Linked DNA regions of Homo sapiens: region 2 is linked to region 1. The links come from fine-mapping of genetic effects on gene expression. A gene starts in region 1. The other region holds a variant in brackets. All regions are shown on one strand. Distances are between the middles of the regions. Region 1 holds the start of TMBIM1 (transmembrane BAX inhibitor motif containing 1). Region 2 holds the start of CATIP (ciliogenesis associated TTC17 interacting protein).

Evidence for each region.
Region 2: its variant is fine-mapped to the expression of TMBIM1 in whole blood (TOPMed, PIP above 0.99).

What each region holds. Positions count from the first base shown.
Region 1 is chr2:218,286,935-218,303,110 of GRCh38, reverse strand. It overlaps TMBIM1 (transmembrane BAX inhibitor motif containing 1), which reads left to right and starts at 10,608. Exons shown (of 12, transcript NM_022152.6): 1 at 10,608-10,645. All of the region lies in intron 2 of PNKD (PNKD metallo-beta-lactamase domain containing), which reads right to left. RefSeq lists enhancers at 9,084-9,930, 10,113-11,075, 11,076-12,040, 12,960-13,459, 15,792-16,171 and a silencer at 10,351-10,830.
Region 2 is chr2:218,355,349-218,371,524 of GRCh38, reverse strand. It overlaps CATIP (ciliogenesis associated TTC17 interacting protein), which reads right to left and starts at 14,668. Exons shown (of 10, transcript NM_198559.2): 1 at 14,616-14,668; 2 at 14,338-14,430; 3 at 13,791-13,991; 4 at 13,433-13,488; 5 at 10,866-10,952; 6 at 8,623-8,790; 7 at 6,773-6,897; 8 at 4,425-4,501; 9 at 4,007-4,095; 10 at 3,431-3,803. The coding sequence starts at 14,640. The coding sequence ends at 3,561. It overlaps CATIP-AS1 (CATIP antisense RNA 1), which reads left to right and starts at 3,623. Exons shown (of 3, transcript NR_110573.1): 1 at 3,623-3,934; 2 at 4,498-4,598; 3 at 4,727-4,860. CATIP-AS2 (CATIP antisense RNA 2) reads left to right here and starts at 13,559. Exons shown (of 4, transcript NR_125777.1): 1 at 13,559-13,611. RefSeq lists a silencer at 3,332-3,641 and an enhancer at 14,262-14,773. The variant C/G (reference allele first, on the strand shown) is at 7,597.

The sequences.
Region 1 (16,176 bases):
CAAATTAGCTGGGCATGGTGGTGGGCACCTGTAATCCCAGCTACTTGGGAGGCTGAGGCAGAAGAATCACTTGAACCTGGCAGGCAGAAGTTGCAGTGAGCTAAGATGGCACAACTGCACTCCAGCCTGGGGAACAGAGTGAGACTCCATAAAACAAACAAACAAACAAACGAACAAACAGAAAAAAAACCTCCAGGCCTTTAGGTAACTCTTTTAATCAATTGCCAATCAGAAAATTTTTAAATCTACCTATAACCTGGAAGCTCCCTTCAACACACACATACATTCTGCGCCCCTGTCCCCCCGCCCTGACTACCTTGGGCCACGTGTTCTCAGGGTCTCCTGAGGGCTGTGTCAAGGGCCATAGTCGCTCATATTTGGTTCAGAATAAATTTCTTCAAATATTTTACAGAGTTTGAATGTTTTCATTGATATCTTTAGGCTGAAATTTGAAGTCCTTAAAGAGGCCCTGAGACTCTGTAGACCTGGCCCCTGCCACCTCCCCAGTCTCCTCTTGGGCCATGCCCCAGTGCCCACCACTCTCCAGCCACACCACTCTCCTGGAAGTTTCTGGAACATGCCAAGCTCTTTCAGCTTCAGGGGTGTCTCCACACCTTCACATAGCTTGATCCTTCTGCTTAGAAGGGTCACAGCACCATTGTCCACCACCCCCCACGGCCCATCCCCTCTGTAGCTACTCTTTCATGCCACCTTCTGCCAACATAAGAGGTGCCTGGGTGCCACTCTTTTGTTTTTGTTTTTTGAGATGCAGTCTCACTCTGTTGCTCAGGCTGGAGTGCAGTGGCGCTATCTCAGCTCACTGCAACCTCTGCCTCCTGGGTTCAAGTGATTCTCCTGCCTCAGCCTCCCGAGTAGCTGGGACTACATGTGCGCACCACCATGCCTGGCTAATTTTTTGTATTTTTAGTAGAGACAGGTTTCACCGTGTTAGCCAGGATGGTCTCGATCTCCTGACCTGGTGATCTGCCTGCCTCGGCCTCCCAAAGTGCTGGGATTACAGGCGTGAGCCACAGCTCCCTGCCTTGGGTGCCACTCTTTTAGGGCACTGAGTCAGCTTTCCTTAAGTGCATGTATTACAGTTTGTAAAGATACCTTTGCTTATGAGATGAGTTGCTAATATCTGTCCTGCCTTCCCTACTGGACTGTAAACTCCAAGAAAGCGGGGGCTGTATTTTATTTACTTCTGTATCCCCACAGGTCTGGCACACAGTTGGCCCCTCATAAATGCTTGTTAAATAAATCTTAATGGTATTGGGGTTGAGTCCTGGCCCCTTTCTTTTCTCCCGTTTTTGTTTGTTTGTTTGAGACAGATGGTAGCTCAGGCTGTTGCCCAGGCTGGAGTGGCATAATCACAGCTCACTGCAGCCCTGACCCTCCTGGGGTCAAGCCAACCTCCCACCTCATCCTTCCAAGTAGCTGGGACTACAGGCACGCACAACCATGCCCAGCTAATGTTTTAATTTTTTTAAAGAGATGGGTCTCACTATGTTGCACAGGCTGGTTTCGAACTCCTGGGCTCAAGCCATGCTTCTGCCTGGGCCTGGCTAAAATGCAGAATTACAGGTGTGAGCCATTGCGTCGGCCAAGGCTCCCTTTTTCTAGCCAAACAGTGCTAGTCAGACTCTGCCCCCTAGTGGTCATGTCTGGGAACTGATTGTGGCTTGTTCCAACCGCTTCCTAGATGTCAGTTTTTGACTTGTTAAAAGTAAATGGAACGCAGCAGAAAGTACTGAGTGCAGGCCCTGGGCTAGGCATCTGGCCAAGATGAATTACGATCTAGACCCTGACCCCCAGAATTCCCCCTTAAGTCAATGACCAGCGCTATAGATCTGTGCTGTTTCATATGGTAGCCACTAGCCACTTGCCACTGAGCACATAAAATGTGGTTAGTGCAACTATAAAACTGAATTTTTAATTTTATGTAATTTTAATTCATTTAAACTTAAATCTAAACATTGGCTGCTCTGTCTATGGAGTAGCCATTCTTTATTCCTCTACTTTCTTAATAAACTTGCTTTCATTTTACTCTAAAAATAAAACAATAATAAAATAAACCTTGATGCTTATTTCAGTTATTGGAAAACACTCAAGTATGTACATTTTACAAACACTTTTCAGATTTGATCTAAATACAGATCCTATATTTCTGATGAAAAAGTAACATCCTAATTGAGATATGCTGTGTCAAATACATACCAGATTTTGAAGACTTAGTATTTAAAAATCCCATTAAAAATTCACCTATGGCCAGGCGTGGTGGTGCATGCCTGTAATCCCAGCACTTTGGGAGGCAGAGGTGGGTGGATCACTTGAGGTCAGGAGTTCGAGACCAGCCTGACCAACATGGTGAAAACACATCTCTACTAAAAATACAAAATTGGCTGGGCGTGGTGGGGCATGCCTGTAATCCCAGCTACCTGGGAGGCTGAGGCAGGAGAATCTCTTGAACCCAGGAGACGGAGGTTGCAGTGAGCTGAGATCGCACCACTGCACTCCAGCCTGGGCAACAGAGCGAGACTCCATCTCAAAAAAAAAAAAGAAAAGAAAAGAAAAGAAAAAAATGTAGACTCTCAACCTACTGAAGCAGAATCTGCATTTTAACATGAACCCCAAGCGATCTATTTGCACATTAAAGTTTGAGAAGCAGTCACCTATTAGACATCCAAGTGGTGATATAGGCAGCAATTCTCTGATTGCTTGCTCAGAGACATAGGAAGCAAAGTCGAGGCTGAGAGTGAGGCTGCAGAGGAGGTGTGGGAGTTCAGAAGGGACTGTAGAAAGTGTGGAGTAATTGCCTAGGATGGGTGTGTTAGTATGAATGGACAAGTTAGTGTGCATGAACTTAAAGCGAGATCAGTCAGGACCGTTGCATGTTTTTACCCTCACTTTTGGCTATGTGGGTGCAGAGTTGAGATTTTGCTGCTGAGAACCATAAGGTAGAGTTGAGGCTGCATGCAAAGGAGTAATTATAATATTGGAATCCAAGCTGGTCAAGGAGGAAAGTGAGGATGTGAGAGATAAGAAAGAGGTGGTGGTCAGGCGCGGTGGCTCACTCCAGTAATCCCAGCACATTGGGAGGCTGAGGCAGGTGGATCACTTGAGCCCAGGAGTTTGAGACCAGCCTAGGCAACATATGGAGACCCCATCTTTACAAAAAATTACAAAAATTAGCCGGGCGCGGTGGCTCACGCCTGTAATCCCAGCACTTTGGGAGGCTGAGGCGGGCGGATCACCTGAGGTCAGGAGTTCGAGACCAGCCTGACCAACATGGAGAAACCCCATCTCTACTAAAAATACAAAATTAGCCTGGCGTGGTGGTACGTGCCTGTAATCCCAGCTACTTGGGAGGCTGAGGCAGGAGAATCACTTGAAACTGGGAGGTGGAGGTTGTAGTGAGCTGAGATCATGGCACCATTGCACTCCAGACTGGGCAACAAGAGCAAAACTCTGTCTCAAAAAAAAAAAAAAATTACAAAAATTAGCCAGGTGCAGTGGTGTGTGCCTGTGGTCCCAGCTACTTGGGAGGCTGAGGTGGGAGGATGGCTTGAGCCCAGGGGGCTGAGGCTGCAGAGAGCCATGACTGCTTCGCTGCACTCCAGCCTGGGTGAGAGCGAAACCCTGTCTCAAAAATAAATGAATAAACAAATAGGTCGGGTGCGGTGGCTCACGCCTGTAATCCCAGCACTCTGGGAGGCTGAGGCAGGTGGATCACCTGAGGTCAGGAGTTCGAGACCAGCCTGGCCAACGTGGTGAAACCTCATCTCTACTAAAAATACAAAAATTAGCTGGGCCTGGTGGCGGGTGCCTGTAATCCTAGCTACTCAGGAGACTGAGGCAGGAGAATCGTTTAAACCTCGGACGCGGAGGTTGCAGTGAGCCAAGATCGCGCCATTGCACTGCCATTGCACTCTAGGCTGGGTGACAAAAGCGAAACTCAGTCTCAAAATAAATAAATAAAATAAAATAAAATAAATAAATAAAATAAAGGAACAGGTGGTAAGATGAATAGATTGTTGATCCTGATATGGTCACAGAATTGTCAAATCACGGTCACAGAGCTGGAAAAATAGATGGTGGTCAGAGTGTGGGGTGCCTGAAATTGAGATTATGGAGGGGGTGCAGTTATTGGTAAGGAGAGGTTCTCAGGCAGCTAATATCGTGGGTTGGGAATAAGAGGAAATCGCTGTTGGCTTTTCTTGGGGAGTAGAGTTGTTTAGACAAAAGCAAGTATCTATGAGGAGGAGCTTCCTAGGTGGGGGGCAAGAGAGTGGGAGAATGAAGCCCAAGATGGACGAGGAGAGGGGCTTGAAAGCTGAGAATCCCCCGGTATTCTGGCTGGCAGAGGTGGCAGAGGTCCATGGCGAGAGGGCAGGGTGTAAGGGCACAGCTGGAGCCTGGCCCTGCTGAGCTCCCAGCTCGGGCAAGTTCATCCCTCCAGGCCCTGCTTAGTGTGAAAGGAGGTTGTGTTCATCACTGGGAGAATCACTGGGCTTCTATCTCACAAACAACAATAACAATGAACATTTTAACTCTGCCCCAAGCATTTGACAACTGCTATTTTTCATTCTTACAACTACCCTATATTATTACCACCCTTTTTATAGATAAGGTGCCAAGGCTCACAGCAGTTAAGTAATATGCCTAAGGTCACAAAGCCACCAAAGACATTTGAACTTGGATTCAAACCCAGGACTGTCTATCACCAAAGCTTGCTGGTGTGGCTGGCGATTCACCTGGGGAGCGTTTGTTTATGCTTCCACTGAAGATTCTGATTCACAGGTCTGGAAAGAAGTATCCCCAAGGGAACGTGCATGTTTTCACAAGCAGCTCAGGTGACTCTGAGGGTCAGGGAAGAATGGAAAGCATTTCGCTGGCCCTGCCTGCAGCATGGTGGATGCCAGGCTGGTTCCGTGGCCTGGCTTCCTCATGGTGCCACCCACTTCCAGTTACAGCAGTTTCAGTCACCATCAACATCCGCCATGTGCCTTTCTCACTGCCTTTCACCTAGATGACCTCAACTGAGGAAGGCGCCAGAAGTCACAGGAGGTAGAGAAATGCAGTATGATTTCTCTCTCTCTTTTTTTTTTTTTTTGAGATGGAGTCTCCCTCTGTTGCCCAGGCTGGAGTGCAGTGGCGTGATCTCGGCTCACTGCAAGCTCCGCCTCCCGGGTTCATGCCATTCTCCTGCCTCAGCCTCCTGAGTAGCTGGGACCACAGGCGCCTGCCATCACGTCCAGCTAATTTTTCTATTTTTAGTAGAGACGGGGTTTCACTATGTTAGCCAGGATGGTCTCGATCTCCTGACCTTGTGATCTGCCCGCCTCGGCCTCTCAAAGTGCTGGGATTACAAGCGTGAGCCACTGTGATTTCTTTTCTTCTCTCTTTTTTTTTTTTTTTTTTTTTTTGAGACGGAGTCTTTTTCTGTTGCCCAGGCTGGAGAGCAGTGGCATGATCTCGGCTCACTGCAACCTCTGTCTCCCAGGTTCAAGCGATTCTCCTGCCTCAGCCTCCGGTGTAGCTGGGACTACAGGCATGCGCCACCACACTTGGCTAATTGTTTGTATTTTTAGTAGAGATGGGGTTTCACTATATGTTAGCCAGGCCGGTCTCTAACTCCTGACCTCAGGTGATCCACCCCCTGACCTCCCACAGTGCTGGGATTACAGGCATGAACCACTGTGACCAGCCACAGTGTGATTTCTAAGTAGAGAGATGGGCCCCCGGCCTCACAGTCCTTTAGTGCCAAAGCTGGAACAAAACTTCACTTCTGAGACATCCAAATCCACCATTCTTTCCACTCTCTATTTCCTTAGGAAAGTGTTAAATAATGTTTATGAATAATAAGGCCAATTTTAAGGGGGAGGAGCCCCCATACCCCACCCCTACCTTATCTATCCCCCACACATCTATCATTCAAGCCTGAGAGGCTCCCTCCATCCCACTTTGGAACATTGGCATTCAATTCAACAGATGCTGGGTCAGGGCCGTGCCCAGGCCTAGGGGTGAATGAGACATTGTCTCTGCCCTCCAGTGGGGAGAAACAGGCACTTTCACCTCAGGCTGGGTTCAATGCCTCAATTCAGTAAATACGTCCTCTGAAAACAAGCAACTTCGGGCGGCGCGGTAGCTCTTGCCTGTAATCCCAGCACTTTGGGAGGCCAAGGCAGGTGGATGACCTGAGGCCAGGAGTTCAAGACCAGCCTGGCCAACGTGGCAAAACCCTGTTTCTACTAAAAATACAAAAATTAGCTGGGCATTGTGGTGGGCGCCTGTAATCTCAGCTACTCAGGAGGCCAAGCAGGAGAATCGCTTGAACCCAGGAGGCGGAGGTTGCAGGGAGCCGAGATCATGCTACTGCACCCCAGCCGTGGTGACAGAGTGAGACTCCATCTCAAAAAGAAAGAAAGAAAGAAAGAAAAAGAAAAACAGAAAAAAGGCAACTTCTTTCAGAAAGTTAGTGATCAATGCATGGGTAGAGTAACACATTAAATGCTAGGTAACCAGGCAGCTATGAGAAGGGTTTGGAGGACCAATTAGTGGAGTCCTGGGGCTGGGCTGGAGGGTGGCAACAGAGAAAGTTCTCTGGATCCACCGCTCCAATTAAGTTTTTCCTGCCCATGTCCTTCAGGTTCCACCTGGGCCCACCCCTTCCAGGCTGCCACCACCCCCTCCCACCAATCACTAAGCTTTAGCTAGTCCTAAAATACCTAAAATAACATCCAGTCCTAAAATAAACATCAGTCTAATCCCTTTCACTCCTCCACCCCTCTTCCTGCAGCCATGGACTTGACTCCACTTTCCTCCTAGGTAGTGTTGCTGGAAAAATACAACCAACCAGTTAAATGTGAATTTCAGATAAGCAATGAGTACTTTTTTTTAGTACAAGTATTTCCAAATATTATATGGGGCAGTGGGATATGCTTATATGAAAAAATATTGTTTGGCCGGGCGCAGCGGCTCATGCCTGTAGTCCCAGCACTTTGGGAGGGTGAGGCGGATGGATTGCTTGAGCTCATGAGTTCAAGACCAGCCTGGGCAACATGGCAAAACCCTGTCTCCACAGAAAATACAAAAATTAGCCGGGCGTGGTGGTGCTCATGTCTGTAGTCCCAGCTACTTGAGAGGCTGAGGTGGGAGGATGGCTTGAGCCTGGGAGGTGGAGGTTGCCGCGAGCCAAGATCGCACTACTGTACTCCAGCCTGGGAGTGCAGAGCCAGACCTTGTCTTGAAAAAAAAAAAAAAAAAGGTTTGTTGTTTATCTGAAGCTCAAACTGGTTGCCTTGCATCTTTATTTGCTAAAGCTGGAACCCTACCCCAGGGGCACCACCAGAGCCTCCCCAACCCTCCCAAACTCCCTCTAGGTGGTTATTTTCTGGCTCCCCATTGCTTTCAGGGTAAAATCTCAATTTCTGGCCCCCTGCCTCCTTGGCCAGCCCTATTTCCTACCCCTTCTACCCCACTGCACCCTCCACCCCCCATCCTAGCTTGCTGGGGCAACTGGCCCTAAGTCCCTTGCCCTCTGCCTGGAGAACCTTCTCCCCTCCTCCGAATAGGCTGGTTCCTAACACCTCCTAACACTCTACTCAGGTGTCACCTCCTCTGAACTCCTTTCCCGAACCCCCACCCCATTCCCCACACTGGGTTAGGAGCTTTCTCTGGGATCTGGAGGAACCAAGTGAATATTTCTTTATCTGCCAGCACTTGTCAAACTGTCAACATTGTAATAATCTGTCATTTTACTGGCTCCCTTAGACTGTGAGTTTCTTGAGAGCAGGGGCTGTGTTCTTTCAGCCTTCTCATTTCTAGAACCGGAAATTCCTGTCTGGTTGGCAGACAATAAAAGCTTACTTAATAATTTTGCAGATAAGGCCCAAGAGAAAAAAACATCATTTATCGAATGCCTATTGCCAGCGAAGCACTGCTGCTCTGGGCCAGGCGCTTCAGGTGTTATTTTTGACCCTATAGTCAGAAAAAGGGCTCTGGAGAAAAAGCACGCAGCAAGGCTTGTGTGGGCTTGCCTCGTGTGCCCCATGTCCCACTCCCCCAGTCGGGCAGATGTGAGTCGCTGGTGATTGCTGGTTGGAAATGGAATCTCCTTGGATATTAACCATCCTGGTGGTTCTAGAAAGTGGAGGGTGTTTTCTGGAGAAGGGGCCTGCTATGGTGGGAATGTTGTTGTCCCCACTCCATTCATTTGTTGAAACTTAATCCTCAATGTTATAGTATTAAAAGGTGAGGCCTTTAGGAAGTGATTAGGTCATGAAGGCGGAACCCTCTGGAATGGAATTCATGCTCTTAGAAAAGAAGCTGGTGGCCAGGTGCAGTGGCTCACGCCTATAATCCCAGCACTTTGGGAGGTGGAGGAGGGCAAATTGCTTGAGCCCAGGAGTTCAAGACCAGCGTGGGCAACATAGTGAGACCCTGTCTCTACAAAAAATACAAAAATTAGCCAGGTGTGGTGGTGCATGTGTGTAGTCCCAGCTACTCAGGAGGCTGAGTTGGAAGGATTGCTTGTACATGGGAGGTCAAGGCTGCAGTGAGCTGCAATTGTGCCATTGCACAGAGTGAGATTCCATCTCAAAAAAAAGGAAGGCTGGTGGGGGGGCGGTGTCTGTTTGTTCCTTCCTTGGCCATATGAGGACTCAGACGATATCTGTGAAGCAGAGGGAGCCTTCATCAGACACCTAACCTGCTGGTGCCTTGATGTTGCGTTTCCCACCCTCCAGAACTGTGAGCAATACATTTCTGCTGTTTCTAAATTACCCACTCTAAGGTATTTTTGTTGTAGCAGCCCAGATGGACTAAGACAGCACAAGTGTAGAGAGCATGAAAAAATGTCAGGGATCTGGACAGATTCCATGGGCCATGCATTTCACCTAGGGCGCTACTCCTTGAGCAAGGGGGAGACAGACACTGAGCAGAACTGTACTTGCTCTGGTGAGATCACACCTTGGGTGGGGACTTCCTAAAATGAGGTTCTTGGCCTGTAGGAACTGGAAGTACACTGAAGGGTTGGGGTGTCTGGGGAGCTAGCCCACCATAACGGCCACTAGTCCCCCTAAGTAACTCCTACTTAAACTATATTTACAGAAATAAACATACATAGTGTGTGTATGGGGGGCAGTTTTTAAAAATCTGTCTTTTTTTTTTTTTTTTTTTTTTAAATCTCTGTTTTGGGGCTGGACGTGGTGGCTCATGTCTGTAATCCTAGCACTTTGGGAGGCCAAAGTGGGCTGACTGCTTTGAGCTCAGGGGTTTGAGACCAGCCTATGCAACAACGTGAAAACCCATCTCTACAAAACAAACAAACCAAACAAAACAAACAAGCAAACAAACAAAATTAGCTGGGTGTAGTGGCACACACTTGTAATCCCAGCTACTCAGGAGGCTGAGGCCGGAGAATCACTTGAAACCAGGAGGAGGATGCAGTGAGCCGAGATGGCGCCACTGCACTCCAGCCTGGGTGACAGAGCGAGACCCTGTCTGGAAAAAAAAAAAAAAAAAAAAAAGGACATTCAGTGGTGGTGTGGTGCTGACCTATAGCTATTAACATGAGATAAGCACTTTAAACAGAGTTGGTCAACTACTGGCAGCCTTGGTGTCATGGAAAGAACTTGGACTTTGGAACCACAGAAACTCAGGCAAGGCTCGGTAATGTTTCTCTTTTTAAATTGAGACAAGGTCTCTCTATGTTGCCTAGGCTGGGTCTCCAACTCCTGGGCTCAAGCCATCCTCTGGCCTTGGCCTCCCAAAAGTGCTAGGATCGCAGGTGTGAGTCACCATGCCCAGGCTCCAGTAATATTTCAGAACTTCCTCAAAACTGTTTCCTCCTTTGCTACTGCATTCTTCACTGAGATGAGGGTTAAGACCTACCTAACAGTAGTAATCTACATCTCAATGTAGGACTTCTGAATTCTGACTTGAGGAAAGCACCTGCTTTCCTGGTTGAGTAATTATAAACAGAGATTCTAGGTTTGCATGTTTGCAGTTTTAAACTCGAAAAGTGCATTTATCTCAAAAACACAGAATTATCAAGGATTTTAATTACTGATTTATTTGTAATGTAAAAATGGGAAACAAACGGCCTCCAGTAGGAAATTAATTTAATCCGCATAGCCATGCAATGGAATACTTCACGGCATTAAGATTGTGCTTTTGAAGACTATTTAGTGAGAAGAAAAATGTTCATCATAAAACAGTAAAAAGAAGGGCAGTAAACAAAACACCATACAATATACCCCACTGTAGAAAAACAAAATACATACAGAAATGTAATAGCCAAAGAAGGACCCAAAGCGAACGCTTCCCCCTGGGAACTAGGAGGGGTGGAGAGAAATTACTTTCTTCCCTGCATTTCTGTGTCTTTTCTAGCTTCCTATCAGTATCATGTATTGCCTTTAAATCCGAAAATACCCCTGTGTTATTAGTGAGGCGTCGTCGGGGCTCTGAGAGGCGCGCGCGCCCGGGACAGACCCCTGCGCCCCCTGGCGGCGCCCTGAGGCCCCGCCCCACGAGGCCGGCGCGACGGGGCGGGGCGCGGAGCCCCAGCCGAGCCTAGCCCTGCCCGGCCCCGGAGGACTTGCAACACTCCGAGGCCAGGAACGCTCCGTCTGGAACGGCGCAGGCAAGCCAGGGGGCCGGGGCCGGCGCCGTTGGGGACTGTGGGCGGTGGGGACTGGTCCAGGGCTGGGGCGGCCATGCGCCGGGGCGCCTAAACTTTTCGGAGCGCGCTCCCGGCTTGCCCGCTCCTGGGCCCAAGGAGCCCGTTCCAGATGGGGATCTCCCCTCCTGGCCCTTGGCGTTTCGCTCTCCCTGGGCGCGCGGGTGGGCGGCCGGGTCTGTGGCACCTGGTTAGCCTTGGGAGCCCAGCAGCGTGTTGTGGGCACTGGTGAGCGGAGCCAGGGTCTGGGGGTGTCCTCGTGTTCCCTCTTTCGGGCACGAGTGGCCTCTCTGTCGCAGGGCCTATCCACCATGCCAGCCCGAGTGGCCAGCTGTGTGGGATGAGGGCTTTCATGGCCCTCAGCTGGTGAGAAGAGGGAAGAGGGAGGGGAGACAGCCAGGGCCTGGCACGGACCCCAGGTTGCCCCCACACGCGCTGAGGCCAGTCTCGGTGTAGACAGGTGAATATTTAAGGGGTGGGGAAGGGGGGGTCCTAGCTTGCAGCTGGGGCAGAAGCCAATGAGCAGCTCAAGTGTTTGGCATGGGGAAGTGGCCACCTCTATCACCATGACTTTGCCCTCTGCCAGTCCCACTTCCAGCCACTGTTTCCCGGCTGGGTTCACAGAACTACAGGGGAGTAACATCCTCCTCGTGACTTCTTTGGGTTAGAGTGAAAACAAAACAGAGAAACGGGAAAAGGGAAAGCAAGTGGAGAGACTGGGGCAGGAGCCAGGGACCAGTGGGAGGAAGCAGAGGGAGGCTGCTGGGAGGCCAGGCCCTGGCCTTGTGGGGTCGGCACCAATTCTTGTCCTATGGGGTCTCCATCTCCTCTCCCTCCTCTGTGGCCTCTACGTGGTACCCAGGAGTTTGGGGTTCTACCTGAGCACCCTGGACATGGGATAAGTAGGCCTGGGAACGCAGGTCAGAGCCAGATGTCATGGAAGGGCCCTCAGGTGTCCAGTTCTCTGGGCTCTGAAATATTCATCTCATTAGTGAGCTTTGGTTTCCAAGCTGGCGACTTTGGGCTGGCCAGTGGTGGCAGGGGAGCCAGGTGCCTCCTGGGGCTGCTTTATTGGCGCAAAGGGGGAGCCATACTTCCTTCTCACCTGCCTCCTCTCTCTGTCTCTCCAGTCATGAGGATCCAGAGAACCAGTTTATAGCTTAAATGGAAGAGGCAGGACCACAGTGTCAGGGGCCCTGTCTTTCTGTGCTATGACCTCAAGGCCTCACTTGTAAAAATGAGCCCTTCAGAGAGGTAATGATGGGTTATCCTGTAAGTGTTGGGAGAGCCTCATGTCATGAGCTGGGGTAATAGCCACCTGGGCTCAGCCTCCTCCCCTGGGAATGGGTGCCTCAGCCAGACGCTGTCTACCTCAGAGCACCTCCAACCGCAGGCCTCACCCTGGGCCTTTCAGAAAAAGCAGAAGCCACAGAGAAGGGAAACACACATACTTGTGTGTTTTCAGAGGGCTGAACTGGGACGACCAGAGAGTGGAAGCTCATACAATTCTCTGGGAAGAAGTTCTGCTAACAACATGTCTGATCATGACATGGGCCTTCTGGACCTATTCTGTTGGGGACACAGTGGAAGGGATGACCTTGACAGAATCTTCCAACCCTAAGATTCTGGGATTCTAGGCCAAAACCTGGGTCTTGTTTTGAAGTAGAAATGATATCCAGAAGTCGACAGGCTACAGTGGCAGGTACCTCCATTGGTGGGAAGGGAGATATTAATGAGCTCCCACTTTTGTCTGTAATGATTTGTGCTTTGCCCCGTTGCACAGAGGTGAGGTTAGGGGTGCCCGTTTCCTGGTTCTGTGGTAGCTGGATATGTCCCCCGGCCCTTGGCAGTAAATCCCACGGTGGGATAGCAGCTGTGTGGAATGGGGGAAGGGGAGGACCCTCGCCAGAGATCCTGGCACTGGGCTGACCCCCTGAGAGTGAGAGGGCATGTCTAGTACTTCATGTGACTGCTCTGAGGGGCAGCTGGGTGTACGCACAGAGGTTATAAGAGACGAGGAGTTAGGATATGAATGATTCTCAGGGTTGGGTGTCTGTAATACAAAGGTGGCCTGGGTCAGCATCCCACAGGGTGTTAATAGGTTTGCCTCGATAAAAGTGGCTCAGGCTTAAGGGAGTTTGAAGGAACACTGGGTTAAACAAAGCTGAACAGGGTTGCTTACTGCAGGACTTCTCAGGGGCAGAATATGCCATTGTGAATTTCCAAGAAGGGGGTGTGGATTGTTTCTCAAGAGTCATCTGTTTCCAGCACTCATTCATTAACGTCTCCTGGGGCGTGTTCTTTAGAACAGTCTGGGAAATGCCTGGCTAGGTGATTCTGTTTCTCCACTGTGGCTCCCATAAACAAGTCCCTACTCCTTTCCCCCACGTGGGCTGATTTAGGGATAAAAGGAGGCCAGGGGAGGTCATTTGCCTGGATTCCTGCAGCTAGTTCATGAACCCAGGTCAGTGGACTTCCTGCCTCCTACTCTTTCTTTCCTAGAGTGTTATATACTGTTTAGCTCGGGCGTAACTGATCACCCAGGAAGAGCTGGCCGTAGGGTCCAGACAGCATTATGGGGACAGTTTGGGAGGGTGTGGACAGCCCCATACTGAGAACATGCCATGTACTTCTGCCTCTGAAGATGTCCTTGGAAACAGTTGCACATCAGTAGTGACCCCCTGGTGTAGGTTCTTGGGGAGCCATGCCATTCTGCCCTGAAGCCTCCTGTTAGGCTGTTCATTCAGAATCAGAAACTGGCAGAGTGGACTTTGATCTTTCAGTTTTTTTTTTTTTTTTTTTTTCTGTCGCCCAGGCTGGAGTGCAGTGGCATGGTCTCGGCTCACTGCAACCTACATCTCCTGGGTTCAAGTGATTCTCCTGCCTCAGCCTCCCGAGAAGCTGGGATTATAGGCATGTGCCACCATGCCCGGCTAATTTTTGTATTTTTAGTAGAGACGAGGTTTCACCATGTTGGCCAGGCTGGTCTCGAACACCTGACCTCAAGTGATCCGCCTGGCTCGGCCTCCCAAAGTGCTGGGATTACAGGCATGAGCCACCGCGCCTGGCCATTCTTTCATTTGAGGGGAATTGTCTTACTGATGTTAAAACTGGGTCTAGAGATGTGGCTCTCACAGTGGAGTGAGTCCCAAAGCCAGGACAAGAACTTCAGGTCCCCACCTCCTAGCCCAGGACCCAGGCTTCAGATCAACTTTCCGCAGGGGAAAGAAATAATGGTAGCAACAACAGCTTGCTCAGCTCCTTTCTATCTATCGTTTTGATCTTTACTGCCTTGGCCCCACCCTGGTGCTGCCTATTCACGCAGGTGCGTGCTACAGATGCCTCAGGGGCTTCTACTCCTGCCTGATATAAAAGCAAAGAGGCTGAATTTTAAATCAGGTGTGAGATCTATGCTTAAACTCATCTCTGCTGTTTGCCTGCTGTGGGACCCTAGATCTCTTTTTTTCTGAATTTCAGTTATCTCATCTATAGAGTGGGATGAGGGTAAGAATACCTCACAGCACTGTTGCAAGGATCAGATGTGCCTTAGTTACTATAGGTTGAGTGTCTCTTATCCAAAATGGGACCATTTTGACAATTTCCTTCCCTCCCTTTTCTTTTACCCACCCCAACTCCCTTCCACCCCCAAGAAAACACTTTACTCTCCTACTCGAGCATATAGTCACGATAGCCATGGGGGCAGACATCTACAGTGGCAGAAGCACATGGATTTTGGATTTTTTCGGATTTGGGGCTATGTATATTATACTTACTGGTTGAGCGTCCCTAATCTGAAAATCCGAAATCAGAAATGCTCCAGTGAGCATTCCTTTGAGTGTCATCTTGGTGCTCAAAATGTTTTAGATTGTGGAGCATTTTGGATTTTGGAAATGAGGGATATTCAACCTGTACTTCCTTAGTTATATAGTAAGTACTGGAAGTGGTTCAACTACTCTAAGTGGTTCCCTTCCTTCCCTAGTTATTTTATTTATTTATTTTTTGAGACAGAGTCTCCCTCTGTTGCCCAGGCTGGAGTGCAGTGGCGCCATTTTGACTCACTGCAAGCTCCGCCTCCCGGGTTCATGCCATTCTTCTGCCTCAGCCTCCCGAGTAGCTGGGACTACAGGCGTCCGCCACCACATCCAGCTAATTTTTTGTATTTTTTAGTAGAGATGGGGTTTCACCATGTTAGCCAGGATGGTCTCGATCTCCTGACCTCGTGATCCGCCCGCCTTGGCCTCCCAAAGTGCTGGGATTACAGGCGTGAGCCGCCATGCCTGGCCCCTTCCCTAGTTCTTTTTTGGGGTTAGTTATCAGTCTCCTTTGTCTGTCTCTTTCCCCTCCTAATCTTGAAGTTCAATGAAAAGACAGGAGATGAAACAAAGAAGGAAGTGAACAGGGACTGTGCTCAGAAGTATTATAGCATCAGCCTGCTAATGGCTTCCTCTTCCCTTATCTGTACTCCCAGGCCATCCTGACTTGGGTGGGGTAACCCGAGATTACCATTCTGATCACAGGATTCTGCTCCAGACAAGGGTGGCGGAGCTGCGGTGCCTGGGTCCTCTCGTGATCCCCAGGACAGCCTCTCCCTCCTGGGAGCTTGGAGCCACCCCTCGGTCTCCATGGGTCCAGAGAGAGGCCACCCTGGCTAGAGAGGGGGCTGGGAGGGGTGGCCTCGAGTTGGGGGCCAGAAGTCGAGGGCTGGCTGTCTTTTTTTTTGAGATGGGGTTTCACTCTTGTTGCCCAGGCTGGAGTGCAATGGCATGTTCTTGGCTCACTGCAACCTCTGCCTCTCGGGTTCGAGCGATCCCCCTGCCTCAGCCTCCCGAGTAGCTGGGACTTCAGGTGTGGGATATCACGCCCAGCTAATTTTTTGTATTTTTTAGTAGACATGGGGTTTGACCATGTTGGCCACGATGGTCTTGATCTCCTGACCTCGTGATCCACCTGCCTCGGCCTCCCAAAGTGCTGGGATTACAGGCATGAGCCACTGCACCCGGCCCGGTCTTAACTGTTTCTGAGCTGAGAGGTCACTAGAGAACTGAGAGAATGGTAGCTTGTTCTGGCCCCTCCTTGGGAGAGGGTGTGTGCTGGTGTCTATCACTCAGAGAGTGGGCGGGGCTGGGAAGGGAAGTTCCAAACCCATGACGAAGAAGAGGGCTGTTCTGGGGTGGAGCAGGAACTTTCTTGGCTCTGGGGTTTCCTTGTCTGTCAAATGACCAGGTGAGATCCAAAGTCTAAGCCAGCTCTGATATTTTAGTGTTTAGATCCCTGTGGCTTCATCCTCTTAGTCCCAAAGTCCAGGCTGATGGAAGGATATTTAGTTGATTCTGGGCCCCCTTGGTGCAGAATCAGGCCTGGTGACTTGCCCAGACACTCCTGGGTGTATCTTTTTACTCATTTGCTCTCGTGGCTATGAGGTCAGCTGTGCCCTGGGGTAGGAGGATAAAGTGTTTTCTTGTGGGGGCAGATAAAGGAAAAGGGAGGGGAACAAA
Region 2 (16,176 bases), 68 kb before region 1:
AATCAGTTTTGTTGTAGAGACAAGGCCTCACTACATAGCCCAGTCTCCTATTCCTGGCCTCAAGTAATCATCCGGCCTCGGCCCCCAAATTGCTGGGATTACAGGTGTGAGCCACTGAGTCCAGGCTGTTATTACTGTTTATTTCCTTCCTCCTCCCTGGAGCCCCATACTAGGACAAGGCTGCATTAGGCACTCTCACTGCATGTCTACATTCCCTTCTTAGCCCTTCCCATGCCCTATACTTTTATATCCCCCCATGGGATTACTGGGGGCTGTCACTTCCTCTCTAGGCTGACTGTGGGCGATGCAAGTGGCGCCTGGCCTGTTTGCTGGCCACAGCATCCCTAGATCCAGTGCCTGGCACTTCAGAATTGCTGAACATGTTTTTTTCTTTATGCTGAGAAATGCATCTCTGTTTTTTTTTTTTAACTTTTTTTTAGAGACAGAGTCTGTCTTTGTCACCCAAGCTGGAGTGCAGTGGTGCAATCACAGCTCACTGTAGCCTTGAACACCTGGGCTCAAGCAATCCTCCCCCCTCAACCTCCTGAGTAGCTGAGACTATAGCCTTGTGTCACCATGCCCAGCTGACTTCTTGTATTTTTTGTAGAGACAGGGTCTTGCTGTGTTATCCAGGCTGGTCTCAAAATTCTAGACTCAAGTGATCTGCCGCGTGGGCCTCCCAAAGTGTTGGAATTACAGGCATGAGCCACTGCTGCCGGCTGAGAAATGTACGTCAGTATTATGGAGCAAGAGGACGGAGTCACAGTAGTTCTGGGAACAAATACTAAGATTTTAAAATAAACCAGTTTTGAAATAGACATCACAGAGGAGACAGGGAAGTGGCTCAACTCCTCCTCCCTATTGCAGGCACCTGATGTAAGAGCTCAGTGAAGGATGAACCTGCGTGTGTTGCAAGCTGCTGCCTTGGCCTCCTCCAACCGCTGCAGGGTTTCTGGACTAAAGGGAGCTCTGTCGATCTTTCTGGGAATGTTCTGGGTGCATGGGGTTGGGTCAGCCTGTTTCGGTTCCCCACAGATGAAGAGAACTTGCCAGAGCCTAGGCGACCCTCTGTGATCCTGCCCTGCCCATCTTGCAGTTACTGCGTGTTTTTCTCCTGCCCCTTCATGCTCCAGCCTCAATGGCCTGTTCCCAACATGCCATGCTCACAGCCTTTGCACTTGCTGTTCCTTCTGCCTAGAAGGCTTTTCCCTCAACTCTTCACAAGTCTGACTCCTTATCATTTAGGTCCCAGCTCAACTGAGACCCTAGAGAGGCCTTTCCTGAAGTCCCCACCCTCAACTCTCCATCACTGCAGAAAGTTCTATTGGGTACCACTGCTCTTGACCACAGACATGCATTACACTTTCCTACTTCTGTCCTTTGCTCATGTTATTTGCTTTGCCTGGAATGCTTTACCTCACCTTAACAGAAATCCAACCCCTGTAGAATTTGGCAATATGCTAAAATAAAAGTCTTAAAATTAGTTCAGCAATGTAACTTGTCAGAATGTATCCTTAAGGAAATAACTTGTTGATATATGCAAAGATTTAGCTACAAGGATGTTCAGTGCAACACTGTTTATAATAGCAAAAATAGAGGCTGTGTGCAGTGGCTCATGCCTGTAACCTCAGCACTTTGGGAGGCTGAGGGAGGTGGATTGCTTGAGCACAGGAGTTCAAAAGCAGCCTGGGCAACACAGGGAGACTGGTCTCTGAAAAAAAAAAGAAAAAGGAAATTGAGGCTGGATGCAGTGGCACATGCCTGTGATCCCAGAACTTTGGGGGACCAAGGTGGAAGGGTCAGTTGAGGCCAGGAGTTTGAGACCAGCCTGGGCAACATAGTGAGACCCTCATCTCTTAAAAAAAGAAAAAAAAAATTTAGCCCAGTGTGGTGGTGCATGCCTGCAGTCCCAGCCACTCAGGCTGGGGTGGAAGGATCGCTTGGGCTCAGGAAGTCAAGGCTGCAGTGAGCAGTGATTGTGCCATGGTACTTCAGTCTGGGTGACAGAACAAGAACCAGTCAAAAATAAATAAATAAAGTTCCCTGGAGTTATAAAGACCAGATCAAACAATCTAGAAAAGGGCTTGACAGAGTGAACACTCAACAAACACCAGCTGCTTTTATGCATAGGAGAGTAGAGAGGATATTTGCCAAAACGTTGAGCAGCTGCTTCTAGGTAGAGAGAGTAAAATGATTTCGTTTTCTTCTTTTGGTTTATCTCCCTTTCCCAAGTTTTATCTTATGAACATGTATTTCTTTTGAAATAAGGGAGAGGGACAATAAGAAATATTTTTAAAAAATCCTTCAAGGTTCAACTCAAGTGATGGTCCTCCATGAAGCCTTTTGTCTGTGATTCTCAGGTCCTCCCCCCAGCCCCGCATCCAACCCAGCCTTGTAGGTGTCTGGTCATACCGTCCACTAGAGAGCAAAGCGTCTCTGGAGTCTGCAGCAGCAGGTCTGACGAACGAACAAGGGAAGGAGAGAGCCTGCACCGCCACCACTCCCTCAGGGGAGCTTGCCTAAAGTTTGCTACTGAGCATCCGGACAGAAGCCACTGGCCAGCACTGACGTTCCACGAGGAGCCCAGAGGATGCGACGATCATCTGCCCATTATTTTTACTCTCGGACCCCCCACCTCCGGAGTCTGGGGGTCCCTCTGTGTCAGTGGGAACCGGGAGGAGCTCGAGCCTGAGTGCTAGCTGCGTTTGCGAGATTTCAGGGGGTTTGAGCTAAGCCAGAGGTGGTCCACGTCGGCCCTCCTCCCTCCCCAACCCCCCGCCGCTTGTTATTTTTCTTTGGGCGGTTGGTTGGGCAATTATGCTCTGCGACCGTAAGATCTGAGTGCCAAGGCGCCCGCCCCTCCGTGCTAACCTAGTAAGAGTGTGGGCTTTTTCTTTTTTTTCTTTTCTTTTCTTTTTTTTTTTTTTGAGACGGAGTCTCGCTCTGTCGCCCAGGCTGGAGTGCAATGGCGCCATCTCGGCTCACTGCAACCTCCGCCTCCGGGGTTCAAGCGATCCTCCTGCCTCAGCCTCCTAACTGGGATTACAGGCGCGCGCCACCATGCCCGGCTATTTTTTGTATTTTTAGTAAAGATGGGGTTTCACCGTGTTGGCCAGGCTGGTCTCGATCTCCTGACCTGGTGATCCGCCCGCCTCGGCCTCCCAAAGTGCCGACAATACAGGTTTAAGCCACCGCGCCCGGCCGAGTGTGGGCTTTCAAGTCCAACGTTGAGGTTCAAATTCTGCCTCCCCACCTGCCAACTCCAAAAGTTAAACTTTCTGTGCCTCTGTGTTCTTATCTGTAGAATGGGGATAATGATGAAAACAGCATCTAGGAGGAAAGGCTGAAATCTACTCGAGGTACGACGGTAACGGTTCCTATTTCTAGCCCGAGACACTAGACGCTAGCCAGGGACGCTGTCGACGGGCGCTGCAGAGAAGCGGGAGGGCCCCATTTATTCCCCCAAAACCGCAGCCCGGAAAGCGCACCCGCCCCGGCGCGTCCCGCCCGCGTCCCAGCCCGACCCCTGGTTTCCTGCCCTGTCCGGGCCTGGGCCCCGCTTAGGCCGCCCCCGAGCGGGCGTCTCCCTCCGGCTCCAGGGAGCGGAAAGGGTTGGGCCGGTGGGAGGAGCCCAAGGCCGGTGACGACGGACGCCACGGGTCGAAGGGGCCGAAGAACTCGGCGGCGAAGGTGACCACGTCCTCCGGCTGGCGCAGCAGCAGGAAGAGCAGGAAGTCGGAGATGAGCGCGTGGGCTTCGGGGTGCTGCCGCAGATAGCTGGCGTGGCCGAGCCGGAGCTCCTCCTGGCAGGGGACAGAGCCCGAGCCTCAGCCGGACGGGACCCCCGCGCCCCAGGAGCCCCCAGCCGCTCGCTCCAAGGAGAGCTAAGGGGCGCTGGAGCCTTCTAGCCCCTACGGGTGTGCATTTCAATCAGGTGCAGAGATCAGTAATGAATTTAAGGCCCATGGGGGAATGGGAACCCCAGGCTGGTGGAGCCTCCCCTCACCTTCCGGTCCAGGAACTTCGAATAGAGCTCCATATCCTCCTCCCATACCAGGGGCTTCTTCTCAAACACTGGGCGTGGCTCAATCTCATCTAGGTGGGGAACAAGGAAGGCTGGGCGTCCCTACCCCGGAACCTTCCTTGGATACACAGCGAGATCCCGAGAACACCCAAACAGAAGGCTCAGGTGAAACCCCAGGATTCTGCCCACATGGGCAGAGTTGCAGGAAGGGACTTCCAGTAGGAAAGATCCTCCTCTTATTGCTTGGGGTCAGGGGCTGGAGGGCAGATGTTCTCCAGCTGATTCCAGGCTCCTGTCCCGTTTACAGCACACTGGGTCCAGCCCCCTGCATCCTGGAAGGCCCAGGTTTCCCCACTCCCCTTAACTCTCCCTGCCTGCACAAGGCCTGGGCTTCACTCACCCTCTTCCCTCAAGATGGGCATCTTGGTGATGATGCAGCACCCTGGGGAGCCCACCTGTATTCTCTTGGCCAGGTGCCTGGAGTGCAACACAACATGTGAGAGTGAGAATCTTCCCAGACCGCCTGCTATGGACTGAATTGTCTCTCTAACCCCCAGTGTGGTGGTATTTGGAGGTAGGGGCTTTGGGGAGGTCATTACGTTTACATGCAGTCATAAGGGTGGGGCCCGAATCAGATAGGATTAGTGCCCTTATGAGAAAAGGGTGATGCCAGAGAGCTTTCTCTTCACTCATGCACGGAAGAAAGGCCATGTGAGGACACATTGAGAAGGCACTTGTCTGCAAGCTAGGAAGACAGCCCTCACCAGAAACCAACCCTGATGGCACCATGATCTTGGACTTCCTGCCTTCCAGCAAATATATTTCTCTTGAAGCCACCCAGCCTGTGGTGTTTTGTTATGGCAGCCTAAGCAGACTCCTACATGACAGTGCCCCTTGAGAGACCTGTCCCGGGCCTCTTTACTTCTGCCTCCCTCTCTTGTTTATTAAGTTCCTGGGTGGTGTTCATTTCTGGATCTCCAAATAACGCACAGGGCTTGGCAAGTATTAGGCCCCCTGTTTAAAAAAAACAAAAAGGATCTTTAGAGGTACAGCACTCGAAAATCATGGAGCCTCTTGGCCAGGCACGGTGGCTCACGCCTGTAATCCTAGCACTTTGGGAGGCTGAGATGGGTGGATCACTTGAGGTCAGGAGTTTGAGACCAGCCTGGCCAACATAGTGAAACGCCGTCTCTACTAAAAATACAAAAAACTAGCCAGACGTGGTGGTGGGCGCCTGTAATCCCAGCTATTTTGGTGGCTGTGGCATGAGAATCACTTGAACCTGGGAGGTGGAGGTTGTAGTGAGCCAAGATTGCATCCCTGTACTCCAGTCTGGGTAACAGAGCGAGACTGTCTCAAAAAGAGAAAGAGGCCTGTCGCAGTGGCTCACACTTGTAGTGGCTCACGCCTGTTATCCCAGCACTTTAGGAGGCCAAGATGGGCAGATCACTTCAGGTCAGGTGTTTGAGACCAGCCTGGCCAACATGGTGAAAGCCTGTTTCTACTAAAAATACAAAAATTAGCCAGGCGTGGTGGCAGGCACCTGTAGTCCCGGCTACTTGGGAGGCTGAAGCAAGGGAATCACTTGAACCTGGGAGGCGGAGGTTGCAGTTAGCCAAGATTATGCCACACATTCCAGTCTAGGTGACAGAGCGAGACTCTGTCAAGAAAGAGACAGAGAGAGAGAAAGAGAGAAAGAGGAAGGAAGGAAGGAGAAAGAAAGAAAAGAAAAATTATGGAATCTCCTGCTATGCGGCATTCAAAATAAAAAGGTTGGCCTGGAGCTGTGGTGCATACCTGTAGTCCCAGCTACTAGGAAGGCTGAAGCAGGTGGATTGCTTGAGCCCAGGAGTTGGAGGCTGCAGTGGGCTATGATCGCACCAAAACCGAAAACATACTAAGTTATGAGATAAAGCCAACAATGTTTTGATTACCTTTTCCCCAGTGTAGTGATTATGTGAATATCTATTCTGAAATTTTAAGAAATAAACTCGACTGGAGTCTGTCTCAAAAAAACAAAACAAAACAAAAAAACAGAAAGAAACTCTTTCTTCCACCTGAATTTTCTTTTTCTTTCTTTTTTTTTTTTGAGACGGAGTCTTGCTGTCACCCAGGCTGGAGTGCAGTGGCGCGATCTCGGCTCACTGCAAGCTCTGCCTCCTGGGTTCACGCCATCCTCCTGCCTCAGCCTCCAGAGTAGCTGGGACTACAGGCGCCCACGACCACACTTGGCTAATTTTTTGTATTTTTAGTAGAGATGGGGTTTCACCGTGTCAGCCAGGATGGTCTCAATTTCCTGACCTCATGATCCGCCCGCCTCAGCCTCCCAAAGTGCTGGGATTACAGGTGTGAGCCACCACGCCCAGCCCTGAATTTTCTTATGATTTGGAGCCAGTGCTTTGCTGGAGACTGCACGGCAGCCTGCCACAGGCAATTCTTCCAGCACAGTGATTTCATCAAGTGTGCAGTCATTCAGACCTTGGTGTTTTTCAGTATTATCCCTTACACAGTGGTGGCTGCACTAGCTACACCCCAGGCCTGTGGTGTGCAGTGAGAAGGTTTGGGAGGCACTGTGAGGGTTAAGAGGACGAGCAAATAAATGAAGAAAGAGTGAATGATATGGATAAAGCGGAGGGACACTCCTATCTCAATGCCAGTTCTTCCTGGTGCTATCCCCAGAAGCAGCCGGTCTCCTTGAGCACCTACAAGCTCAGCACCACCCCTCTGGGCCCACCATCAGCAGCTCACCCATCGGAGAGCAGGTAGTACTGGCAGGACATGGGGATGCCCTCCTCCGCGTGGACAGTCTGCTCCACGATGAAGACTTCAGCCTGCTGATGGTCTACCTGGATGGTCTGGAAGCCCAGGTTTTGCTGGCAACAGCCAAAATTGGGGGGTGGGAGGTAAGGTGGATGCCCGCCAAGGGCTCCCCATCATCTTACCTTAGCCTTTTCTCCATCTCATAACAACCTCAAGACATTTAATATTGCATCTCCAAACCTCCAAGCTGAGTTGGCGACCCCTCATAGGGAGCTAGCTCCAGGTTGCCCTTGCCCTGACCCCTCCCATGTCATCTCGCTGACCAGGTGCTTCTAGTTGGCAAATTCTGTTACAGGGATGAGAAGCGGTATGCGGGGGGGTGTGGGAGCGGAGAGGTAGGATGAGCTACTAGGGCCAGTGGGTGGAGGTAAAGTGAGGCTCAGAGGTGTGAGACCAGACAGATTTGTGGCCACCTCAGACCTGTGCTGTTGCTGGCAGGCTGTCCCTGTTGTGATTAAAACTTAAACCCCTGTTGTAGCTGCAGCTATGGAGAAAAAAGTGCTAATGTTAAACACATGTTTCAAAGAACACGGAGGGGAATGGATTGTGCTTGTTCATGTCAAATGCATTGCTGCTTGGTGTGTTTTGATAGACAAGCCTGGAATGTAATTTACAAAGATGGTCAAAGAAACACAAATCAGCCCCCAAAGTGTCTCACTGGAAATTGTGTGTTCAGTGGCATGGCTTTAAAATCACTGATTGCAGGAAGTCCTAGGCATGCTGATTATGAAATTTTAGTTAAAAACAAAAAA[C/G]AAAACAAAAACGGAACACCCTTTGGGGTTAAGAAATAATAAAGGAATATTTCAGTAAAGTTGGACATGTTACACTTCCTAAAGTTAAAAAATGATTTATTTTTATTTATTTATTTTTTTGAGACAGAGTCTCCCTCTGTTGCCCAGGCTGGAGTGCAGTTGTGCGATCTCAGCTCACTGCAACCTCCGCCTCCTGGGTTCAAGTGATGCTTCTCCTGCCTCAGCCTCCCGAGTAGCTGGGATTACAGGCACTTGCCACCACACGCAGCTAATAATTTTTGTATTTGTAGTAGAGACAGGGTTTCACCATGTTGGCCAGGCTGATCTTGACCTCCTAACTTCAAGTGATCTGCCCACCTTGGCCTCCCAAAGTGCTGGGATTACAGGCATGAATCACTGCGCCTGGCCAAAATGACGTTTTTTTTTTTTTGTTTTTTTTTTTTGAGACAGAGTCTCGCTCTGTCACCCAGGCGGGAGTGCAGTGGCGCGATCTCGGCTCACTGCAAGCTCTGCCTCCCGGGTTCACGCCATTCTCCTGCCTCAGCGTCCTGAGTAGCTGGGACTACAGGCGCCTGCCACCACGCCCCGCTGATTTTTTTTTTTTGTATTTTTAGTAGAGGCGGGGTTTCACCATGTTAGCCAGGATGGTCTAGATCTCCTGACCTTGTGATCGGCCCGCCTTGGCCTCCCAAAGTGCTGGGATTACAGGCGTGAGCCACCACACCTGGCCCAAAATGATGTATTTTTTAAATCAGCCCTGCACTATATTTATTTTTCCTGGACTGACTTCTGTGCGGAAGGGTTGCTTCTCTGAACTGTTCCCACTTCTCAGTCACTCTCAATTCATCTGCCCCACACTCCCAGACAAACATGCTTTCCTGCCCTTGAAAGCCCCATTCCCACCTGTGCTGTTTTCTCCCCACCTGCCTCCCTTTTCTACTCCACAGCTGTTCCCCATCTCAGTGCTTTTCACGCCTTTTCTAGTTCGCTCCCAAGCCAAGTCCCCTGCCCAAGGGGACCCCTTACATAGGTCAAATAGCAGAGTTTGCCCTCGGTGTCCAAGGTCAGGAAGCGGGCATTGCTGGGCACCATCCGCCGCCAGGCCATCACCCTGAGCAGCACCAGGTTGGCAGCCTCTGAGATGAAGCCCTTGATTGAGCTCCAGGGGAAAGAAGTCACTCCAGTCTTCACTTCCTGTTCAGAACTGATCTGGGTCAGGGTCCTGGAACCAGGAAGGGGCAGGGGACAGGAGGGTGGGCAAGCCAGGTGTTGGGCATACGGTTTTGTTTTTTTTTGAGACAGAGTTTCGCTTTTTGTCACCCAGGCTGGAGTGCAATGGCGTGGTCTCAGCTCACTGCAACCTCCGCCTCCTTGGTTCAAGCGATCTCCTGCCTCAGCCTTTCAAGTAGCAGGGATTACAGGCTACCATGCCTGGCTAAATTTTGTAATTTTAGTAGAGACCGGATTTCACCATGTTGGCCAGGCTAGTCTTGAACTCCTGACCTGAGGTGATAGGCCCCCTCTGCCTCCCAAAGTGTTGGGATTACAGGCGTGAGCCTTTTTTTTTTTTTTTTTTGAGACAGGGTCTTGCTCTGTTGCCCAGACTGGAGTGCAGTGGTGCGATCTCAGCTCACTGCAACCTCCAGCTCCCAGGTTCAAGCGACTTTCCTGCCTCAGCCTCCTGAGTAGCTGGGATTACAGGCTCACGACACTACGCCCAGCTAATTTTTGTATTTTTATTAGAGGGGATTTCACCATATTGGCCAGGCTGGTCTCCACTCCTGACCTCAAGTGATCCGCCCGCCTTGGCCTCCCAAAGTGCTGAAATTACAGGCGTGAGTCACCACACGCCTGGCCTTCAGCCGGTCATATGGTTTTTAATGAATGAATCCTTGTCTTTTTTTTTTTTCCTTTTTCTGGAGAACGGGGTCTCGCTATATTGCCCAGGCAAGTCTCGAACTCCTAGGCTCAAGCTATCCTCCTGCCTCTTGCTTCTGAGAGCTGGGATTACAGGCGTGAGCCACCGCGCCCAGCCTAATGAATGAATCGTTAGTCTGGACTCCTGGCTTCATCTAATCTGGTCCCCGCTCAGAGTTCTGAAGAGGACATTGTGAAAGAAAAATAAATCTTGGGACCCCAAATCACTAAGCCAAAGGGAAGTCAAGCTGGGAACTGCCTCAGGCAAAGCTGCCTCCCATTTTATTCCTAAACAAGGTAGCTACTAAGAGAAAAAAAAGCTATATAACTCCCTCACTATTTGCCCACAAGGAAATTCCTTGTGGACAAAGGACAGACAGAACTCAAAGTCATCCCTCTGCTCACGTGAGATAAATGCATATCTGATGGCTTTCTCTGCTCTATTGTTTCACTAAGCCAGAGTAAGGCATAAGTGACTACTTTTCTAACCCCCATAGCATGTAAATTGTGTATTCAGTGAAAGGCTAATCGGAAACTTAAAAGCATGTCTCTTATCTACCTATGACTTGGAAGCCCCCTCCCTGCCTCGAGTTGTCCTGCCTTTTCCAATGAACCAATGTACATCTTTTTTTTTTTTTGAGACGGAGTCTTGCTCTGTCGCCCAGGCTGGAGTGCAGTGGCGTGATCTCAGCTTAGTGCAAGCTCCACTTCCCGGGTTCACGCCGTTCTCCTGCCTCACCCTCCCGAGTAGCTGGGACTACAGGCGCCTGCCACCACGCCTGGCTAATTTTTTGTATTTTTACGTCTGGTGAACCAGTGTACATCTTACACGTGTTGATTGATGTTTCGTGTCTCCTTAAAATGTATAAAACCAAGCTGTAGGCTGGGCGTGGTGGCTCACGCCTGTAATCCCAGCACTTTGGGAGGCTGAGGCGGGCGGATCACCTGAGGTCGGGAGTTTGAGACCAGCCTGGCCAACAGGGATGAAACTCCCTCTCTACTAAAAATACAGAATTAGCCGGGCGTGGTGGTGCATGCCCATAATCCCAGCTACTCGGGAGGCTGAGGCAGGAGAATCACTTGAACCCGGGAGGTGGCGGTTGCAGTGAGCCGAGATCACGTCATTGCACTCCAGCCTCTGCAACAAATGTGAAACTCTGTCTCAAAAAAAAAAAAAAAAAACAAGCTGTGCCCCAACCACTTTGGGCCCATTTCCTCAGGACCTCCTGAGGCTGTGTCATGTGCGCGTCCTTAACCTTGGCAAAATAAACTCTCTAAATTGATCTGGACCTGTCTCAGATATTCTGGGTTCACAGTGTGTAGTGCAACTCCCATCTGGCTCTCATCCTTACCTCACCCTCCTTGATACTTCTGGTCACAGCCAGCTGATCATCCTGCTTCAGCAAACTCATCTTCCGTTCCATGGGGAGGATGAGGAACTGAGGGCCAGAGCATGCGGGGGAGGATCAGGGACTCCCTGGGTCCCCCAGAGGTCACCTGACCCTTCTCCATTAATGAGAAAACTGAGGTTTAAAGATTGTGACTTAAAAAAAAAGCAGCCGGGCCGGGCACAGTGGCTCACGCCTGTAATCCTAGCACTGTGGGAGGCCGAGGTGGGCGGATCACGAGGTCAGGAGATTGAGACCACCCTGGCTAACACGGTGAAACCCCGTCTCTACTAAAAATACAAAAATTAGCTGGGTGTGGTGGCACATGCCTGTAGTCTCAGCTACTTGGGAGGCTGAGGCAGAAGAATTGCTTGAACCCGGAGGCGGAGGTTGCAGTGAGCCGAGATCGCACCACTACACTCCAGCCTGGGCAACAGGCTGTTTTTGAGACTCCATCTCAAAAACAAACAAACAAACAAACAAAAAACCAAGCAGCAGGGCCAGGTGTTGTGGCTCATGCCTGTAATCCCAGCACTTTGGGAGGCCCAGGCGGGCAGATCACTTGAGGTCAGGAGTTCAAGACCAGCCTGGCCAACATGGCAAAACCCCATCTCTATTAAAGATACAAAAATTAACCAGGTGTGGTGGTGCATGTCTGTAATTCCCAGCTACTTGGGAGGCTGAGACAGGAGAATTGCTTGAACCCGGAAGGTGAAGGTTGCAGTGAGCTAGATTGCACCACTGCATTCCAGCCTGGGTGATAAGAGCAAGACTCTGTCTCAAAAATAATAATAATAATAAAATAAAAAAAAAAAAGCAGCAGCAACAAAAACCAAAAAACACCTTTCATACACAGTGAAGCTGAAGAATAGCAGTCGTGTTATGATGCAATATAAAGTTCAAAAACAGTGCACTTCAGAACACTGGTTTTAAAAGATGGGGGTGGGCCAGGTGCAGGGACAGCAGGTTGCCACTGATAAGTTCTCCTGATACCCAAACTCTGAACCCAGCCCACACCAGCCCTCCTCCAGCCTGAGAGCCCAGTGCCTCCCTGGAGGCCTGGTGGGCTGGCCTTTCCCAGAGCCTAGCCTTCCCTGGGGGCCTGTTTCACCTGGCCTCCAAGTCTCCCAGCTCTGTGCCCCTCACACCCAGCCCCAGCCACTTAATTAACTTGTGGAATGTGAACATGACCTGTTTACACACTGGAAACTACTCAAGTCTAAAAACCTTCCCACAGAAACCAGAAACCATCCCCAACATTTTTTTTTTTTTTTTTTTTTTTGAGACAGAGTCTCGCTCTGTTGCCCAGGCTGGAGTGCAGTGGTGTGATCCTGGCTTACTGCGACCTTCGCCTCCTGGGTTCAAGCAATTCTCCTGTCTCAGCCTCCCGTGTAGCTGGGATTACAGGTGCCCACCACCATGCCTGGATAATTTTCTTTTTGTATTTTTAGTAGAGGTAGGGTTTCACCATCTTGGCCAGGCTGGTCTTGAACTCCTGACCTCATGATCCACCTGCCTCGGCATCCCAAAGTGTTGGGATTACAGGTGTGAGCCACTGCGCCCGGCTAATTTTGTGTTTTTAGTAGAGACAGGGTTTCTCCATGTTGGTCAGGCTGGTCTTCAACTCCCGACCTCAGGTGATCCGCCTGCCTCAGCCTCCCAAATTGCTGGGATTACAGGCGTGAGCCACCGTGCCCAACCTACATCTTTTTTCTTCTTTTTTCTTTTTTTTTTTTTTTTGAGACAGGGTCTCATTCTGTCACCCAGGCTGGAGTACAGTGGCACGCACATTGCTCACTGCAGTCTTGACCTCCTGGGCTCCGCTGAACCTTCCACCTCAGCCTCCCAAGTAGCTGGGACTACAGACACACATTACCACACCCAGCTACTTTTTGTATTTTTTGTACAAAATTTATAAACATTTTTGGTGGGTTTTGCCATGTTGCCCAGGCTCAAACTCCTGGGCTCAAGGGATCCTCCCACTTTGGCCTCCCAAAGTGCTGGGATTATAGGCTTGAGCCATTGTGCCTGGCCCACCCTCATTGTTTTTTAATTTTTTTCTTGAGACGGAGTCTTGCTCTGTCACCCAGGCTGGAGTGCAGTGGCGCGATCTCGGCTCACGGCAATCTCTGCCTCCTGGGTTCAAGCGATTCTCCTGCCTCAGCCTTCTGAGTAGCTGGGACTACAGGCGTGCACCACCATGCCTGGCTAATTTTTGTACAGATGAGGTTTCGCTATGTTGGCCAGGCTGGTCTCGAACTCCTGACCTCAGGGTGATCCGCCCACCTCTGCCTCCCAAAGTGCTGGGATTACAGGTGTGAACCACTGTGCCCAGCCCACCCCCGTGTTTTAAAATCAGTTTTCTGAAGTGCGTTGCTTTTGAGCTTTACATTGCATCATAACACGATTGCTATTCTTCAGCTTCACTGTGTATGTAATAGGTTTTTTGGTTTGTTGTTGCTGCTGTTTTTTAAGTCAAAATCTGTCTTCTCTCCCCTGGATTGGGTCAAGGCTGGGGCCCTGGGAAGTACCTTGATGAAGTCTTGGCTGTGCTGTTCCATGAGCTCCAGCTTCTCTGAGAGATAGCCTGGGGTGCAGGGACACAGGCATTGACGTCACAGGAGATGTGGGTCAGAGGCTGAAGGAAGGGAAGGTGGTGGCGCAGCTGGAGGACTAGGTGTAATACGGTCCCAGAAAAACTACAGGATGGGTAAGATGTGCCCTCATCCCGAGTCCATGAGGAACTCGCTCATCCCTCTCCCACCCCGTGCCTTGTCCTGGTCCAAGGCAAAGCCAAGGGCTTGGTCCTGAAAAAAGATTCTAGGAATTGGTGGAGGGGAGGGTTGGAGGAAGGGGAGAGTGACGGGCATCAGGCAGTAGGAACGCTACCCAGGAGGGAATTTCCGCAGAGCATTTTGTCCAAGAAGCCTCGGCTAGAGGCATGCACGAAGAGGCAGTATGTCAGCATGCCGAGTTTTTCCTGGTATTTCCCTCTCTGCACCTCAATGGTCAGCTCTCCCTGAGGCTCCCCGGTGTCTGAGACCATGGCCAGCGTCTCAGAGAAGAACAGCATCTGTAGCTCCTCCTTGTCTGGGGTGAGGGGCCCGTGGGAACAGATAAAGCCCCTGCTCCTGGGCCCCAATCCAATCCTCTGACCCCATGACCACCAGTGTCCCCACAGTCCCCACCTGCCTCCTCATCCCACAGCCTTCCTCACTGGCACGGACAGGTGAAGACTCCTGCCCCATGTCCCCATGTCCCCGGGGGGCCTTCCCTTGAAGAATGTCAACAAACAGGCCTCAGGCCTTTTCTGAGTCCCAGGAGAATCAAGGAAGAGAGAGAGAGAGAGAGAGAGAGAGAGAGACTGGACTTTCTTCCCTCCTCTCCAGACTTGCACCCCTCCCGCACCCCCAACCCCGACACTGTCTGAGCTCACGGAGGGAGCTGAGGAAGTCGATGGCTTCAGCATTGGCCTCTGGGAGTGGCAGACACTCCGGACCCGAGGGCTGGTGGTCCTTAGCTCTGGAGCCTACAGAGGGATGAGAGGCTAAGATGGCAGACCCTGGGGAGAAGGGCAGGGGTCAGGGAGGCAAGGCAGGGTACCTCAGTCCTGGCCCCAGCACCCAAGAACAGAATCCTCTAAGACTACCCCGAGGGTGGATTGGGAAGAAAGAAGAGGATCCCCGCCTCCAGCCCCAGCAGTCCTCTTCCCACCTGTGGAGTAAACCTTGGAGGACATGCTGTGGGCCTGCCTCTACCCGGTCTGTGTCCAGCTGTCTCCATGGCAACCAGAGCTGGACAGTGCCTCTTAAAGGGCCATCAACCCACTTTACTACACCCAGACCTTGGAGGGAACTGACACTGCAGGTTTGGGGCTCAGCACAAGCTTGAGGTGTTGTCCAGCAGAGGGAGCATTTGATATATATTTTTTTCTTTTTTGAGACGCAATCTCGCTCTGTCACCCAGGCTGGAGTGCAGTGGCGCATTCTCATCTCACTGCAACCTCTGCCTCCCGGGTTCAAGCAATTCTTCTTGAGGTCTCAGCCTCCCGAGTAGCTGGGACTACAGGCGCACACCACCGCGCCCAGCTAATTTTTGTATTTTTAGTAGAGATGGGGTTTCACCATATTGGCCAGGCTGGTCTTGAATTCCTGAGCTCGTGATCCTCCTGCCTCAGCCTCCCAGAGTGCTGGGATTACAGGTGTGAGCCACCGCGCCTGGCCCACATTTGATATTCTTAAGAGGCAGAGTGAAGAAATGGGTCATTAGAATGACCTTAGAAGAGGCCAGGTGTGGTGGCTCACACCTGTAATCCCAGCACTTTGGGAGTCCCAGGCAGGTGGATCACTTGAGGCCAGGAGTTTGAGATCCAGCCTGGCCAACATGGTGAAACCCATCTCTACTAAAAATACAAAAATTACCAGGGAGTGGTGGCACATGCCTGTAATCTGTCTCAAAAAAAAAAAAATGACCTTAGAAGATATGAACGAAAGTCAGACAGAGTCTCAAATGCACACTATCCAATTAGCTGCTACATGAATATCTCTGCAAGTTACAGTTCTAATACATGTAACAATAATGATAACAACAATGACAACATAGCAAACTCTTTGACTGGACTTATTCCTGGTGAGGCGCTTTTTTTTTTTTTTTTAGAGAGTCTCACTCTGTTGCCAGTCTGGAGTGCAGTGGCGCCATCTTGGCTCACTGCAACCTCTGCCTCCTGGGTTCAAGTGATTCTCCTACCTCAGCCTCCTGAGTAGCTGGAACTACAGGAGTGTGCCACCATGCCCAGCTAATTTTTGTATTTTTATTTTTATTATTTTTATTTATTTATTTGTTTGTTTTAATTATTTTTGAGAAAGAGTCTCACTCTGTCACCCAGGCTAGAATGCAGTGGCATGATCTCAGCTGCAACCTCCTCCTGCCAGGTTCAAGTGATTCTCCTGCCTCAGTCTCCCAAGTAGCTGGGACTACAGGCACCCGCCACCACACCTGGCTAATTTTTGTATTTTTAGTAGAGATGGGGTTTCACCATGTTGGCCAGGCTGGTCTTGAACTCCTGAGCTCAAGTGATCCACCTGTAGAGTCCAGCCCTACGGGGCTTAGCGGGTGTTCTCCCTGTGTGTGGAGACGAGAGATTGTAATAAATAAAGACACAAGACAAAGAGACAAAGAGAAAACAGCTGGGCCCGGGAGACCACTACCATCAAGACATGGAGACTGGTAGTGGCCCAGAACGGCTGGGCGCGCTGATATTTATTGCACACAAGAC